Linked DNA regions of Homo sapiens: region 2 is linked to region 1. The links come from fine-mapping of genetic effects on gene expression. Tissue or cell type: sigmoid colon. Region 1 holds a variant in brackets; the other region holds the start of a gene. All regions are shown on one strand. Distances are between the middles of the regions.

What was found. PIP is the estimated chance that this variant, and not a neighbour inherited with it, causes the effect.
Region 2: it holds the start of GMDS-DT, and the variant in region 1 is fine-mapped to the expression of GMDS-DT in sigmoid colon (GTEx, PIP 0.98).

What each region holds. Positions count from the first base shown.
Region 1 is chr6:2,382,345-2,390,528 of GRCh38, reverse strand. All of the region lies in intron 4 of GMDS-DT (GMDS divergent transcript), which reads right to left. Among named protein-coding and RNA genes, the nearest start is that of GMDS-DT, 140 kb to the right of the region's middle. The variant C/T (reference allele first, on the strand shown) is at 3,850.
Region 2 is chr6:2,242,358-2,250,541 of GRCh38, reverse strand. GMDS-DT (GMDS divergent transcript) reads right to left here and starts at 4,789. Exons shown (of 7, transcript NR_046229.1): 1 at 4,612-4,789; 2 at 1,616-1,705. It overlaps GMDS (GDP-mannose 4,6-dehydratase), which reads left to right and starts at 4,937. Exons shown (of 11, transcript NM_001500.4): 1 at 4,937-5,221. The coding sequence starts at 5,120. RefSeq lists a silencer at 4,665-5,294 and an enhancer at 4,795-5,295.

The sequences.
Region 1 (8,184 bases):
ACTCCGTCCAACTGCGGTGCTGAGCAGCAGGAATACAGCCCTGTCATCCATGTGCTTCCGGTGAATCCAGGGCACAGACAACCAGCAGGTGCTCTGATGACAGGGTGAGGCCTTTCAGACAAAAGGGACAGCACACGGAATTATTCTTGACTCTTTCTGTGCTCACAGTCCACATCCAGTCCGTCCATGAACTATGAAGCTGTTTCCACTTTGGGGCCATGATGAATAACGCTCCTGTGAACACGAGTTTTTTGTGATGTGATGTTTTCACTTTTCCCGGGTGTGCAGCTACGAGTGGAGTTACTGGGTCACATGGTGCCTCTGTGATCTGTCTGCACATACTCCATATTTTACTTATTAATTTTAGTTCTATCCTATCCTGTTTTCTCACCTTTGCTAAAACGCAAACCTCATGAAGGCAGCAAATTGTTTTCTGTTTTGTTTGCTGCTATATCTCCAGTGCTTAGAAAATAAGTCCTCAGTAAATATTTCTGGAATAAATGACTGAATAAATGTACAGAGGCCTGAGGGTGAAACATCCTTTTGTATTCAGGAAGCTGCAAGTCACTCAGGATGACTGGATTGTAAGATACAGGGGCTTAAAGGGCAATGCTGAGGTTGTGCATAGGGAACAGGTGAACTTACCAAGAACCATGGGCCTTAGGCATGCTCTCTTAACCAGGAGAGCAACCAGATCCATGGGGGCAATTTGTGTTGCAGGTTGTGGGATTCCAGCTCAAGTTAGCCTAAGCAAAAGAGGGATTCTATTGGTTCCCAAGACTTAAGTTCAAGGTAAGCAGTTGCTTCACCCCCTGTGAGATCCAGAGATGAAGATGATTCTCTTTCTCCCTCCTCTTCCCTTTCTCTTTCTCTCAGTCCCTTCTTTTCTCTCCCTCTCTCCTGTGGCCCCTCCTCCACTTTCCACTTTCCTGAATTCATTTGATTCCTGCCTGAGTTCTCTCCTCGCAGTGGCAAAATGGTCAGTGGAAGTTCCAGGCTTTCATCACCCCTTCAGCCTCCAGCACACCCAGAAAAACCAGGGTGCCCACTCTTTCCCCCACATCCGTGGGCATCTCCCGGAAGGTCTTTGATGAACCCCAGTTAGGTCTGAATCTTGTGCTGGATGAGTCACAGGGACACTATCCAGCCACAGTGGCTGGTCCCAGTAGTTGAGGGACCCTGAGAATTGTGTGGAATGTGGTGATGGGGAGTGTGCATGCGGGTGCACACATATAGGGTATTTGTGTGTGTGCACCGTGTACATGCAGGGGTGTATGTGTGTATGTGTATTAGGGTCTGGGTGTGGGTGTGGGGTGTGTTCAGGGAGTGTGCATACACGCATGGGTGCCTGGGTATGTGCACGTGTTTGTGTGTACGTGGAGTGTGTGTTTGTGTGTGCATGGTGTGTGTGCATATGTATGCACTGGTATGTGTGCATACATGGGGTGTGTGTGCATATGTGGAGGTGTAGGTATGTGGGGAGTGTGTAGGTGTACATGTATGAGTGCATGTGCGTGTGTGTGAAGGTGTGTGTGTGTGTGTGTGTGTGTGTGTGTAGCAGTGGGGTTGGGGAGGAGACAGTCTCCAGAAGGAAAGTGGGGGCCTATTAGCAGCAGTGTAGGGATGGGGAGCTGGGCAGTCAAACCCTTCGAGTCCTGATGCAGAACCTAATCAGAGCTGTGTGGCTGATGGATGAAATGACAACTCAGCACGGATGGTGGCGAGGAGATGTGCAGAGGGACATTAAGAATGGGAGCACCTAGTGACAGATGACACATAAAACATGGCCCAAGCAACTCCTGGGGAGCTGGCTGAAGGGACTTGATGTGGCCCGATATCACAGAGTGAACTAAAGAATAATGGAATAGAAGCAGATCTTGTTGAATGGCTTTGGTTTCCTGGTTTTGTTAACACATATTCTGACTTACTTTCAATTTAAGTCGAAAGGACCTGCCTGAAAACTGTGATCAGTAAACAGCCTGGTCATCAGAGCCGCTGTAAAGGGACCGAAGACACACAGTCCCTTTCTCTTTGAGGCTCGAGCACTAACCCAGAAACTGGAGAGGGCATCCAACAACACAAAGTTCCCTTTAATACATATGCACATATTTTAGTGTATATGTATATATGTAATAAAGTGGAATGCAGAAAGCAGGTATTTACATACGCACATATTTTAGTGTATGTGTACATACGTAATAAAGTGGAACGCAGAAAGCAGGTATTTACATACGCACATATTTTAGTGTATGTGTATATACGTAATAAAGTGGAATGCAGAAAGCAGGTATTTACATACGCACATATTTTAGTGTATGTGTACATACGTAATAAAGTGGAAAGCAGAAAGCAGGTATTTACATACGCACATATTTTAGTGTATGTGTATATACGTAATAAAGTGGAATGCAGAAAGCAGGTATTTACATACGCACATATTTTAGTGTATGTGTATATACGTAATAAAGTGGAATGCAGAAAGCAGGTATTTACATATGCACATATTTTAGTGTATGTGTACATACGTAATAAAGTGGAATGCAGAAAGCAGGTATTTACATACGCACATATTTTAGTGTATATGTATATACGTAATAAAGTGGAATGCAGAAAGCAGGTATTGTCTCAAATTCAGAATGGTTACAATTGATCATTTTTTCAGTTAATAGGTAAAGTTGTTCTGGAGTACATGGGATAATGAAATATGTATAAAACAAATAGGAATGGGTTGGCAAAAACCAACCCAGTGAGGAGATAAGCACTGATGACATTAAGATGAGTAATTTATACCCAAGGCTGAGTAATTTATAAAGAAAAAGTGGTTTAATGGACTCACAGTTCCATGTGGCTGAGGAGGCCTCACAATCATGGCAGAAGGCGAAAGCATGTCTTACATGGAGGCAGACAAGACAGAATGAGAGCCAAGCAAAATGGGTTTCCCCTTATAAAACTGTCAGATCTTGTGAGACTTATTCACTACCACAAGAACGATATGGGGGAAACCACCCCCATGACTCAATTACCTCCCACCGGGCCCCTCCCACAACAGGTGGGAATTATGGGAGCTACAATTCAAGATGAGATTTGGGTGGGGACACGGCCAAACCATATCAGGTAGGTAGGTAGGTAGGTAGATAGGTAGATAGACAGATGATAGATAGATAGATGATAGATAGATAGATAGATAGATAGACCAATAGATAGATAATTAGTTTTCTGTAGTTACTGTAACAGAGTATCATAAACTGGGTGGCTTAAAACAACAGAAATCTATTCTCTCACAGTTCTGGAGCTAGAAATCAGAAATTCAGGTATCCACAGGACCACACTCCCCCAGAGCAGAGGCTCTAGGGGAGAATCCGTTCCTCCCCTCTTTCAGTTTCTGGTGGCTCTGGTGTTCCTTTGCTTGTGGCCACATCACTCCAATCTCCACTTCCGTAGCCATGTTCCTGCTTCCTCTTCTCTCTGTCTCTCCTCCAAGTGTCTCTTATAAGGACACTTGTCAATGGATTCAGGACCCACCCACCTAATCCAGGATGGTCTTCTCATCTTGAGATCCTTCCCCTGATTATGTCAGCAAAGACCCTCCTTCCTGAGAAAGTCACATTCAGAGGTTCCAGGGATCAGGATGTGGACATATCCTTCTGGGGAGTAGCCATTCAGCCCACCACAGGTAGACAGACACTAGATATGCCTCCTATTCATATATTAGATTTTATTACATTGCACTCTGTCCAGTTTTATTTTTCCCTTCTCTTAGTTTTGTAACTACTGCAACTTAAGCAACTGTGAGTTGCCTGGGTTCATTTTACCATATCATTTTGCGTCACAAGCTCACAAAAGACTACA[C/T]TTTTGAAAAAATGATTGTCAAACCAGATGTGAGAACCTCACATGAGACACCCTATAATTCAAACCATGAGCCCTGCAGGCTGTGTTTCAAGAAGGACAGTCCTATAATAAAAATATTGTGTGTATTTCCCCTCGGCCTTCTACAGGTTCAGGTGCACGAAGACCTTGACACCTATGAGCCAAAAAGTTCCGGAACCTATTTGGGTGGACGTAGAGTGAGTACTTGCTTGAAATCTGTCTTTCTGCCAAGAAATAGTCACCATGCCCACAGCCCCAAAAGCATGTGGTTCTAGGTCACAGCCTGTCACATAAGGCATGTCTGTGGAAAACAGATTTTTACGAGTATCCCATTTCTTTAATCTTCCTTTCCTCCTTGTTGAAAAAAACTAAAAAAAGAAAGAAAAGTAATGTGTTTGTGCCAGTGGGAGAAGAATATTGATATTTTTTTCTGTTTAATTTCCAAAACGCAAAGTGCCTAAATAAAACTTGTGATTCTCTTTGCATCCCAGATTGGTTAGGGCGGAAGTTTGTTTCAATGAAAGTGTATTAAATAGTGGCTTAGTTGGCAGAAGGCAGCAAACCCAGAAGAAAGGGAAGAACATAAAAAGCACTGGAAAAGTAAGTGAAAAGTTTTTCTTTTTAAGTTTGTAGTAGGATAATATTTAAATATACAGGAGTTAAGTATAGTAAATATGTTTTTCATTTTAATTGATCAAACATCTCTCTTCATTGGTAACATATCCTCTTTCTTTCACTCAATGAAAATTCTGACTTGAGTTATAAAATAGCTAGTCATGATTTTTATTGCCATAGCTAGCCATATTTACGTCAATGTGCCACAATAAAACAGAGAGAAACGGTCATTTTTATGTGTAAAGAGAGTGAGCTTAAGCCATGTACCTCTCTCTGGCCACATTAGCATGCACTCGGCACAGCTACAGGGGCCTTACACGGCCCTCCTTGCACGGGAGACTCTAACATCTGGCTTACGTCTGTTTGGTCGGAAAAGTTTCTGTTTCATTTTATTTTTCACTTTATGCTGATACTTTTTGGCTTTTCCAAAAGTATTCTTGGGTTTTTAAAATATATATAGTATGGCCTCAAGTAGTTCCATATTTATTCATACACTGATGTAGCCAAGTTACATGAAGAGTGAAGGAAATGCTTCAAGAGAAAACCGCATCTTACCTCTCGTTTTTTTACTGAATATTTTGGACAAAGAGAATTTTTTTATACCAAGAACTGTATAAGTATCTCAATGTGTATCTTCCTTTTTTTCCTTTGCATTTCTGTTGAAATCTTCTTTACTTAAAAAAAAAAAAGTTGCAGTACTGCATTCCTTTAATAAAAATTCCATGAATAGGCCAGAATTCTGTAGGAAATCAAGTGAGCTAGGACTAGTATTATTCACTTATACTTACAGTTTAATACCATAGTATTAAATTCTCAGTTCCTATTATTAAAATGACATTTATATCCTGTTCAACTGCCTGGATAAAAAAAAAAAATCCATTCCTCGGAATCGTGATGCCCAAATGCAGAATAAACTATAATGCTTAGAATTAATTGCTTCTATTACTCAACAAAAATACAAAGCAGAATGTAAATGGTAAAGGTTCCAGGGAACAGCTGGAAAATATTGCCCTCTTGATAGAAGTTACCTTAATTGTGAAATAATTCCCAAGCCAGGATATCAGCTTTAAAATTTTGCTTTTCTGTCCCCTGGGCAATATTTTACTATTCTGGTCTAACTAATAAAGGTTACCTCAGTTGTTTATTTACAGTTATTGCTGTCAGTTGCCAAACCAATAAAATCCATAAACTCTATTATTTATCACAAGAAATCTGTGTGGTTTTATAGACGTATATGGTTATTTTTCTGTGCATTTTATAGGTTCTGTAACCAATACTAAGTCTCTAAACATCTAAGACAGCTTCTGCCCTGCGGGTACCATTTCCCAGCTGTTATATTAGACATTAGTCACTACTTATTTTGTAAGATTTTTAATTTAACATGTTTTACGACTGTACATTTCATTAGTATTCTATGCAGTCATGCAATTGGGTACCTACTGCCTGCCAGGTACTATGTGAGGTCTGGGGGATAAATAAACTCTTACTAGTTCAGGAAGATTCATGTTTCCTGATCCTGTGGACAGTGCAGCCCATCAGAGAGAGAAACCTCAGAACGGGGCAGTGAGAATAGACCTGCTAGCTTTTACTCTGTAGATCATTTGGAACAAAACCTCTTTACCCAGGAGGTCGCAATGGCAATTGCCACAGCTAAAAGGAAACAATAGAAATAAGACTTGGAGCCTGTAATCCCAGCACTTTGGGAGGCCGAGGCAGGTGGATCACCTGAGGTTAGGAGTTTGAGACCATCCTGGCCAACATAGTGAAATCTGGGTTACAAGTACATTTGAGCAAGCAGGCAAATTTGCAAATATGGAATGGCAAATAATGAGGATTGACTGTATATATGAGATATTTTAAAACATTTTTATCATAAAAATTTTCAAATCTGCACAAAAGTAGAGGGAATATTAACTTTTTTTCTATCTGGATCTCTCTCTTTTTTTTTTTAACTTCACCTCTATGACCCACGTATCTCCGGACAAGATAAAATATGTGCTTGCTCTGTTCACATAAAATAAAGCCTCACACATAGGCATGAAATATGCCTATGACCTAGTATTTGCCCAGTTGAGTTCTTCGAGAACACACCGGGGACTGTTGTGGGGTGGGGGGCGGGGGGAGGGATAGCATTAGGAGATATACCTAATGCTAAATGACGAGTTAATGGTGCAGCACACCAACATGGCACATGTATACATATGTAAAAAACGTGCACATTGTGCACACGTACCCTAAAACTTAAAGTATAATAATAATAAAATTAAATTTTTTAAAAAAAGAGAATCAGTTATAAACCAAACCATGCTGAACTCATGATAATGAACAAACAGGAGACAGGATGAAGAATTAGATACTGATTAGATACAAATACATGTAAAAGATAAGCCCTTTATTGGAAAAAGAAAATCAGGATAATAGATGGAAAAAAAAGAATGTATTCATCACAGATATGTAAATTATATTTCATGTCAATTAGAGTCCTACATGTGCCCAAAATTAACAAGCTTCCAGCAGCTGAACATGTCTGAAAAGCATTTTAGTGGACTCTAGACAAGCTAAGTAACACACTACAGAAAACTGACCAGAAAAAGTTGGCCCAAGTAAGTGTCCTGGTTGGAAATTTCCGATGTGAATGCAAATAAGGCTGAACGGGTGTGAATTACTGCTCCAAGAAACGCTATAATTCTAAACAAAAACCTCTTTACCCAAGAGTTCACAATACTAACTGCCAAACTAAAAGAAAATTATAATAATGGTGATAAAACCAAATTGGTAAGAAATAGATGACAAGAAGTTCTTCTTTGTTGGACAAAGAAATAAAAATTCTTTTTCTGTAAGTTTCACGCTTGTCTATTTTTAAAAATTTCTTCCCACAAGAGGTCACAGCTTAGTTAGGCCTCCTACCATAAAAATCTCAAAAATAATTTCTAAGCAGTTTTGTTTTCAACATCACAATCCTGAAATGAAATCAGAAATTGAAACATCTGCCTCATGCATGTGGATTTCAGACTCTGAACACATAACCTTACCAGGCTTTCGGAGGCTAAGGCGTTCTTACTGAAGACCACTTGGATTACCTTTCTTCCCTCTTTTGTTCATGCCATTCTCCATAGCAGGAAATGTATCATGTAGCATATCATTTGCCCCAAACCAAATTTTCCAAGTTACATGGTCATCATCTCCCTTATTCCTGGAACAGAACAGTGTTGCAAAGTTTGCCAACAGTAATTCAGGCTTGTGCTCCAAGTCGCTTCCTAGACAAGCCTGTCTTGACCGACCAATACCTGGTTTCCCAACGCTTCAATCTACGTAATGAGATGTTGCTGCCCTGTAGTGTGGATGGATGTTTGGGAAAGATGGAAGAGAGAAGGGTTTAGATGCAACCTTAATTATCTACCCCTGACTAGTCAGGAAAGATAGAAGAAATCAGGACGCTGGTTTTTGCGAGGTGAAGAAAATTTAACATTAGGAAGCCAGGAATCAAATAGGAGACCAGCCACGTGTTAAATACGGCTCTCCCTTAAAGCACCAGGACAGGGGAGCGGCGGGGACGGTCTTAGGGAAAAGCCGGGCCAGGATCGAATTGTGTGGTGGCTGGCTTGGCCCTTGGCTGGCACAGTGCTGGCTCGCCTCCTAGGCCATTCAATCTATCTTCATTTCTCTGGCAGTTGACATTTGCCTGCAACAAGGCATTCCTAA
Region 2 (8,184 bases), 140 kb after region 1:
GAGGTTGAGGCTGCAAGTGAGTCTGGATGACAGAGTGAGACCTTGTCTCAGGCAAAACAAACCAAACCAAACGGTACACAAGTAAATACACATACTCTTGCACAAATGAGTACAAAAACTGAGGAAATCTGAATGAGATTGGTGAATTCTATCAACGCCAATATGCTGCTTGTGCTATTGCTCTATAGTATTTGAAGACATGACCATGTCACTCACTGTATTTCTTAAAAATACATTTGAATCTACAATTATTAGTTGAAAAAAATATTTATGAGACAGAGGAAGAGAACTCGGAGGGCCTTCAGTTGTTGATGTCAGGACATTACCACCATAGCTGAAGGCCAGAATTCAGAAAACCACTCCTGCTGCCATGCTGCTCCCCCAACCCAAGTGGCTCTCATGCCCATGAAAACGGTGACTAGACCCAAACTTGGACTCTAACTGCCGTTAATCCTCATGTCAGTTGGACCAGAAAGCAGAAGGATGGCTTCTGTTTCACTTCCACCTGCCAGATTGAGCAGGAACGCATCTAATTGACAAAGCTCAATTTGCTTCCTATATATGAGATGCAAAATGGTCTGGGACATGTGGCTTTGAGCACTCTAATTTTTCCAAAGAGAGTATGGAATGGGAGTTGAATGAGCATAATATCTACCATAACCAGCCACTAGCTATGTGGCCTTGGGCGAGTTTATTAATGTTTCCAATCCTCAGTTTCTGACTCTATGAAATAAAGATCATTATCATACTGAGTGTGGACAAACTCAAATTGTTTTTCCCCTGCTCTAACAAAACACCAATCAACAGAGAAGACTTCTGTGACCAAGTATGCATGGGATTTCTTCCCACCCACAAGCAGGCAATCAATTCTATAGGGCACACCAGCTGGGTGCCCTTCAATTCCATTCAACTCTGACACTGTCTCCTTGGAGATAGCATCAGATCCCACAGGTCAAGGGCTCAGTCCCCAATACTGTGCCCCCGCCAACTTCTGATGCCAATTGCAAGCCCCAGGTTATTCTACCTGTGCTTCTGACTGGCCAAAAAGTGGGCTTCACGTGACCCCCTTCTTAGGTTTATTAATCTGAAAGAGTGGCTCACGGAACTCAGGGAATCTCTTACTCAGGATTACCAGTTTACTGGTATGACAAAGTATATGACAAAGGATGCAGATGAGGAGATGTACAGGGCAAGGAATAGGAGGAGCTTGGAGCTTTGGTGCCCACCCTGAAGCGTCACCCTCCATGTACCTCCACGTGTTCAACTATCTAGAACTCTCTGCACACAGTCCTTTTTGGGTTTTTATGGAGGCTTCATTATGTCGGCATGATTGATTAAATCGTTGGCCGTTGGTGATCAACTTAACCATCAGCTTCTCTCTCCTCCCTGGAGGTTAGGGGATGGGGCTGAAAGTCCCAGCCCTCTAATCCTGCATTGGTCTTTACAATGACCAGTTTCCACCCTGAAGCCACCTAAGGGCTGCCAGCCAACAGTGAACTCACTCATTACCCTACAAAATACATCGCTTTGGTGATTCTAAGCATTTTAGAAATCATATGCCAGGAAAACAGAAATGAAGACCAAATATAGATTTCACCACAGCAGACGCACTTACCTCCTGGAGTTGGCTGAGATGCAGCACGCTGCCCCACACATCTCACACGCTCCCTCCATCCATGCTGGCCATTAGCATGGTTTGTGCAATCTGAGAAAGAAGATCAGCAAATGTTCCATGTGAAAAGCAAAGGAAAGAAATGTTTAAAAAAGGAGAGGAGAGAGAATTTTAAAGGGAATGCTGGAGAATCGTTCTTGAATAACTGGCATGCACTCAGTGGCAAGAGATGGGAAAGAAAGAAGTGAAAAATGTTATTCCACATATTTAGTCTTGTACAGAATGATTGACTTTTATCCAATTAGAGGACTTGGAGTTGGAGGCCTCACTCTTTTCTCTATATTTTGTATCATATTAAAACAAATATGAAAATGTTATGAAAAGTCATAAAATGATTCAATATCATATCCCTTTCAGATTATAGCCCCTTGAAGATTATTTCTCCTCTACTGCTATACCCTCAGCAGCTAGTATGTTTCTGGAGATTAGCCAAGTTTGTGAGTAAAGGTATCAGCATCAACAATTAGCTACCAAATGTATTTGCTTCTTCTGACATACCATGAAGTCACTGTATAGTATAGCCAGTGTCTGTCAGTTCAACCACCCGCTTGTTAACATCTTTCACTGGCCTCCTGGAGAAGGGTTACTCAGCCTCAGCACTATTGACATTTTGGGCTAGAAAAATCTTTGTTGTGGGAGCTTCCTGTGCACTGCAGATGGTGAGCAAAATACTTAACCTCTACTCATTAGATACCTATAGCACAACTCCATTTGTGACAATCAAAAATGCCTCCAGACATTGTCAAATGTCCCCTGGGGGCAAAATCACCCAGGGATGAGAACTGTGTTAGAGGAAAACACAACTGAGCCATCACCCTTAGAGCTTTCCACTACCGCTGGTCGCTTTACTTCTAGTTAATGTAATCTTCTTATGCTGCCCCAGACCCTGTGCTGACGTTGTTCAAGTTGCCCTAATGCTACTGGGAAAATGACAACAACCTCCACTACCAACCTCCTCCCTCCGAGCCCACAAACAGTTAAAAAAAAGAACCTCTTTTTCCCTCTAGCTGTCAATCATGGGTTGAATTTTGTCCCTCCCCCAATTAATATATTGATGTCTTAACTCTTAGTAGCTCAAAATGTGACTGTATTTGGAAATAAGGTCATTAAAGAGGGTCCTAATCAAATGTAACTGGTGTTCTTATAAGAACAGGAAGTTTGGACACAGACACACATACAGAGAGAACGCCATGTGAACATGAAGACAGCCAGCTACAAGAAAAGGAGAGAGGCCTCAGAAGAAATCAGCCCTTGATCCTAAACTTCCAGTCTCCAGAACTGTGAGGAAATAAATTTCTATCGTTTGTCACCCTATGGATGGTACGTTGCTGTAGCAGACCTACCACCTGTCTTCAGAAAAGTTCTCTAGAGAAATAGCCTTTATTCTTCAAGCTTCCTCTGACCTACCATTTCCCATCATTTTATAAATATTTTCAGGCCCTAATAATGTTGATTTTTTTTCCATTTTTCTTCTACTGTCACACACTTCTAGGGCAGGTGTTTGGTGGTGTGACAGGAAATTGACTGGTGTCAACTTCCAGTGTTTGTGTGATAGGAGGTCTCAAAACTACAGGATAAATGTGTCATATCTCCCATAAGTATCAGTTTTGCTCAGTGATTTTTTTTTTTTTTTTTTGAGATGGAGTTTTGCTCTTCTTGCCCAGGCTGGAACGCAATGGCAAGATCTCGGCTCACTGCAACCTCCTCCTCCCGGGTTCAAGCGATTCTTCTGCCTCAGCCTCCAGAGTAGCTGGGATTACAGGTGCCCACCACCACGCCTGGCTAATTTTTTGTATTTTTAGTAGAGACGGGTTTTCACCGTGTTGGCCAGGCTGGTCTTGAACTCCTGACCTCAGGTGATCCACCTGCCGCAGCTTCCCAAAGTGCTGGGATTACAGGCGTGAGCCACTGCGCCCGGCTTGCTCAGTGATTTTTTTAAGGAAAATGTTAAATAATTGGCTCATGCATTAATTTAAAGCGTATTTACATGAAAATGAGTATAGTTTTAGCATATTCCCGTATATTTCACAGACATTTCTAGCTTATAGCATGTTCCTCTCAATGGAAGTGTTCCCTCTCCTCAGCTTCAGGGTCTCTTCATCACTCAGAGGCACCATCAGATGTTTGTTGAGCCATTCTCCTCATAGAACGCAGAGGAGAGGCCAGGTGTGAAACCAGACCAGTCTATCTATAGCTAAGAAATATTCCTAACGGACCTCGAGGAGCGCGAGAGGGAGGTTTTAAATGTAATCCTGAGCTTTTCTGATTTTGGGGTTCCAGGTCTGCTATACATACTCTTGCACGTTATATTGGGCACAGCCCTAGTAACTCTGTGATTTGAAATGATGATCTGAAGTTATCGATTAGGGAGAGGAATGTGGACAGAGAAGCAGAGCAACGGAGACCGGGAAGTTTCCGTCTGTGTCCTGGATTGCAGCCAACTGCTTAGGCACACACACCTGCTGCCCTCCCGGCTCTGAGTCACCTCCTCTCCTCTCCCTGTCCAACGAGCAGCTGCCAAATGGCAGCCAAATCCAACAGATGTAAGCCGGGACCCCACCTGTGTTTGAATTACTTTCTTTGAAATCTGCCACGTCCAGGTTTATTGACCCGGGCAGTCTTTTCAACATTTCCTTATGCCGCATACGGGTGGGGCTAGGGACTTTCTTGTGCACTGGCAGTCCTCAGAAGAGAAAACTTTGAATTCAGCTATTTGGAACCTCGTTACTGGTTCCGAGCCTCAGGAAAGGCCAGAAGAGCGAGAGCCAGCCTAGTTAGTCACTCCCACATCTGTGACCCCCGTTTACGGGCCTTGTACGCTACTGCCCTTCAGGTACCATAAACCGGGCTTCTCAAAGGGCACTGCAACAGGTTTCCAGGAATTATTTATCAAAGTCCATGACCCCGGCCCTGTGACCCCTGGGTTTGAAAATTCAGACCTTCAGCCTAACGGAGAGGTCGGCTCAGCGTTCCTCCCAGCATCCTCGGGCGATATTAGGGTCCTGGGAGATTCGGGAGGCCACTGCGTCCAGGCCCCCCACGGCCAGCCAGGCGAGAGGCGGGACGCGAAGCCGCGGCCTCCTTCCTCTTCCCTGAGGCGGTGGCGGCGGCAGGCCCCGCCCCTCCCGCGCGGTGGCCGTCGGCGGAGGGGCGGGGCCTGCTACAGCGTCGCCGGCTGACGCGAATGACGCTGCGCCAGTCAGGCCGCAGCCCCGCTGCTTGGCCCGTCGGGCCCGCCTTGGCCGGCTCGGCCCGCCCCCGGCCCTCCCTGCACGGCCTCCCGTGCGCCCCTGTCAGACTGTGGCGGCCGGTCGCGCGGTGCGCTCTCCCTCCCTGCCCGCAGCCTGGAGAGGCGCTTCGTGCTGCACACCCCCGCGTTCCTGCCGGCACCGCGCCTGCCCTCTGCCGCGCTCCGCCCTGCCGCCGACCGCACGCCCGCCGCGGGACATGGCACACGCACCGGCACGCTGCCCCAGCGCCCGGGGCTCCGGGGACGGCGAGATGGGCAAGCCCAGGAACGTGGCGCTCATCACCGGTATCACAGGCCAGGTGAGTGCGGGGGCGGGGGCGCGCCGGCCGAGGCAGCCTGGGCACGCGTGCTCTCCCTACGCGCCGCTACTCGTGGGCTGCGGTCTCTCCAGGAACAGCCCTCTCGGCGTCCCGGAAGGGGTCTGCTGCCGGGAGGTGGGACGGAAGGTACGGTGCAGTTAGTGTGTTGCGTGTGGGGTGTGCGGGATACATCGAGCGCCTCTGGTCTTTCTCTGGGGGCTGTGAGCGTGTGTGCCGCGCGGGATGTCGCGCTCACACCCGGGCAGGACCGCCCGCTCTCACCTGCCCCTCAGGTGACCGCAGCGTCTCTTCCTCCAAGCCCATGTCGTGCTTCGCAGCTCCTAGTGCCGGAAAGGGAAAAGAACCGGTGATCAATGAACTTGCGGGTGAGGTCTTCTTGATGTGTCTCGGCTCAAGGGGCGCTTACCTGCTAACGTTTGGGAAGCAAGAAAAAGGGTGCTTTGCTGGTTTCGTCCCCTATCACCGGATTTCCAGATAGAAAAGAGAACATGAAAGAAAGTAATGCTGTGGAGTCACCTACTAGGACATGTTTAGGAAAAAGAACTTAAAAAACTTTTTAAAATCACGCCAACTTCTGAGATTCAGGTTGACACATTTGGAAGTGTATCCGAGGCACACTGGTCCAAAAGTGCGGCTAGTTCCATTTTCAAAGGAATAAGTTCGTCGAGTAAGGTAATCAAGAGGAGGTCTTCGGAATGTCTCAGGCTAAGCATGGCTGGTTTGTGAGGGTCGCCTCTTAGAGGTGTTGCAGTAGGTGGGATCCGACCGCTGTGTCTTACCAAGCTGTGCTGTTTTAGATTCAGTGGTCATGAAGTAATCGTGCCCACATATTGCTGTAGAAAGAATGTGATGTGTGTGCTCCTGGGTATCTCTGGGTGGTGGCCAATATAACACTGAGATAAAGGTGATAATGGCTAATACATATTGTGTCTATCATGTTCCAGTCGCTTGCCTAACATTAACTCATTTAGTTCTCATAACAAACTCTTTGAGGAGGTACTTTTATTATCTCTATATATGTGGAAACTGAGGCATGGGAGTTTGATTTGCCTGAGGTTAAACCGCTGGGAAGTGTCCAGTTGGTATTGAAACCACTCTCAAAGTTCTCTAGTGTTAGAAAGGGCTAAGTGGGCAGGAGGCAGCGGCTCATACTTGAAATCTCAGCACTTCGGTGTGCAGAGGTGGAAGGATTGCTCGAGGTGAGGCCAGGAGTTTGAGACCAGCCTGGGCAACATATTGAGACGTTGTCTCTACAAAAAAATTTAAAAAATGAGGCAGGCATGTTGGTGCTCACCTGTAGTGCTAGCTACTCAGGAGGCTGAGGCAGGAGGATCACTTGAGTCCGGGAGTCTGAGGCTGCTGCAGTGAGCAATGATGGTACCACTGTACTCCAGCCTGGGGCAAGAGAGTGAGATCCTGCCTCAAAAAAAAAAAAAAAAAAAAAAAAAAAAAAAAAGAAGGAGAAGTTGAAATTGGCCAGATGCACAGTCACAGAATATTACACAATTTCAAGTATTGAATACCTGATTTACTGCTGGTTATTCATGCATCTTGCTTTGCTTAAGGTAATCATAATAGACAAGAGTTTGAAAACTAGTAAGAGGTGGATCTGAGTTTGAAAACTAGTAAGAGGGCAAGGATCTGAGGTTGAGAAATTGAATCCTTGAATTGAGGCAGTAAGACAGGTCAGGGCCTACATACTGTCCTCCCCCTTCTCTTTGTTTTCTAATGCTGGGACCTTTCTGCAGATGATTCCCTTTTTTCCATTTTGTCAGACTGGACCTGAAGCTCAAATGTTTACCAAGTTTACCTAATCTCTGGAAAGTAGAGATTTTATTTTAGTATTGTCCGGAAATTAGTTAAGATTAACATCTTAACTAATGTGCTGTGTTGGTGTGGCCTATACCAATTTACACGACCAGCAGTATGAATCAGTGCAGATTAGAAATGGAACCTAATTTTGACTTTTAAGAGCAGTCATTTGGCTGGAACTGAGTGGCCAGGAAGGTATGGAAGTGGGCCCCCACTCTAGTTTGTCCTGCAGCCTGTCATGGGAGTCTACCTGAAGCACCACACTCAGCAGACCACTCCCTGACTGGAATTTTTTGGTTCCTCATTTCATTTCCAACTTAAAACACCTGCATGGCTTTCAGGTTGGGTTGAATCTCTGCCCCAGTGTTTCTTTCTTCCCTCCGGCATCTGCCCTCTGCATTGTCTCCTCATTTGGTGTTGCATTGGCTTCTGTACCCCTAGCATAGTGCTGAATTCTGTAGCTACCACATAAACACTTGCAGATGGAATTTACTGCTCTTTTATGTTTTTTATTTGTATTCCAGGACAGTGACTCCCAACTTGAGTATCAAGGATCTCTGGAGCACTGTGGTGTTAATGCAAGGGGTCTGAAAATCCATACCTTATTGTATGTTTTCTTAATAATATTGGCTGAGAACTTACTGAGCTATTCACTCTGCTAAGCATTTTGTATATCCCTACCTAAGAGACAGGTATAATAAGTATCCCCATTTATCCCTGGCTAAGTAAGGTTAAATATGTTCCCTGAGGTCGTACATCTAATGAGTGTCAGAACTGAGATCTGAACCCAGATCTCAGCAGTTGCTGTAAGTCATTTTGTTATACAGACTGTGGTGAGCCTTATGAGACAGAGAGAAATAAATAGTCTTACTCTAAGAAGAGATTTCAGATTCAAATGCCACTGCTCTGGCACTTGGGGCTATCATGGCATTTGTGCCAAGATGGGCTCTTAAATGGGTTGTCCCAAATTCCCGCTTGAGAATAGTGCGGACAGCCAGGGTGTCCTGTCTGCTGTGTATCTCTAGTACGTATTGTCAGGCTTCTTATTCTAGCCTTCCCCTCCCATCGGTTCTTGACACACTCCTTTTCCAAAGTGGGAACCTTATTAAATAGGCTTTAAAGAAGCTCAG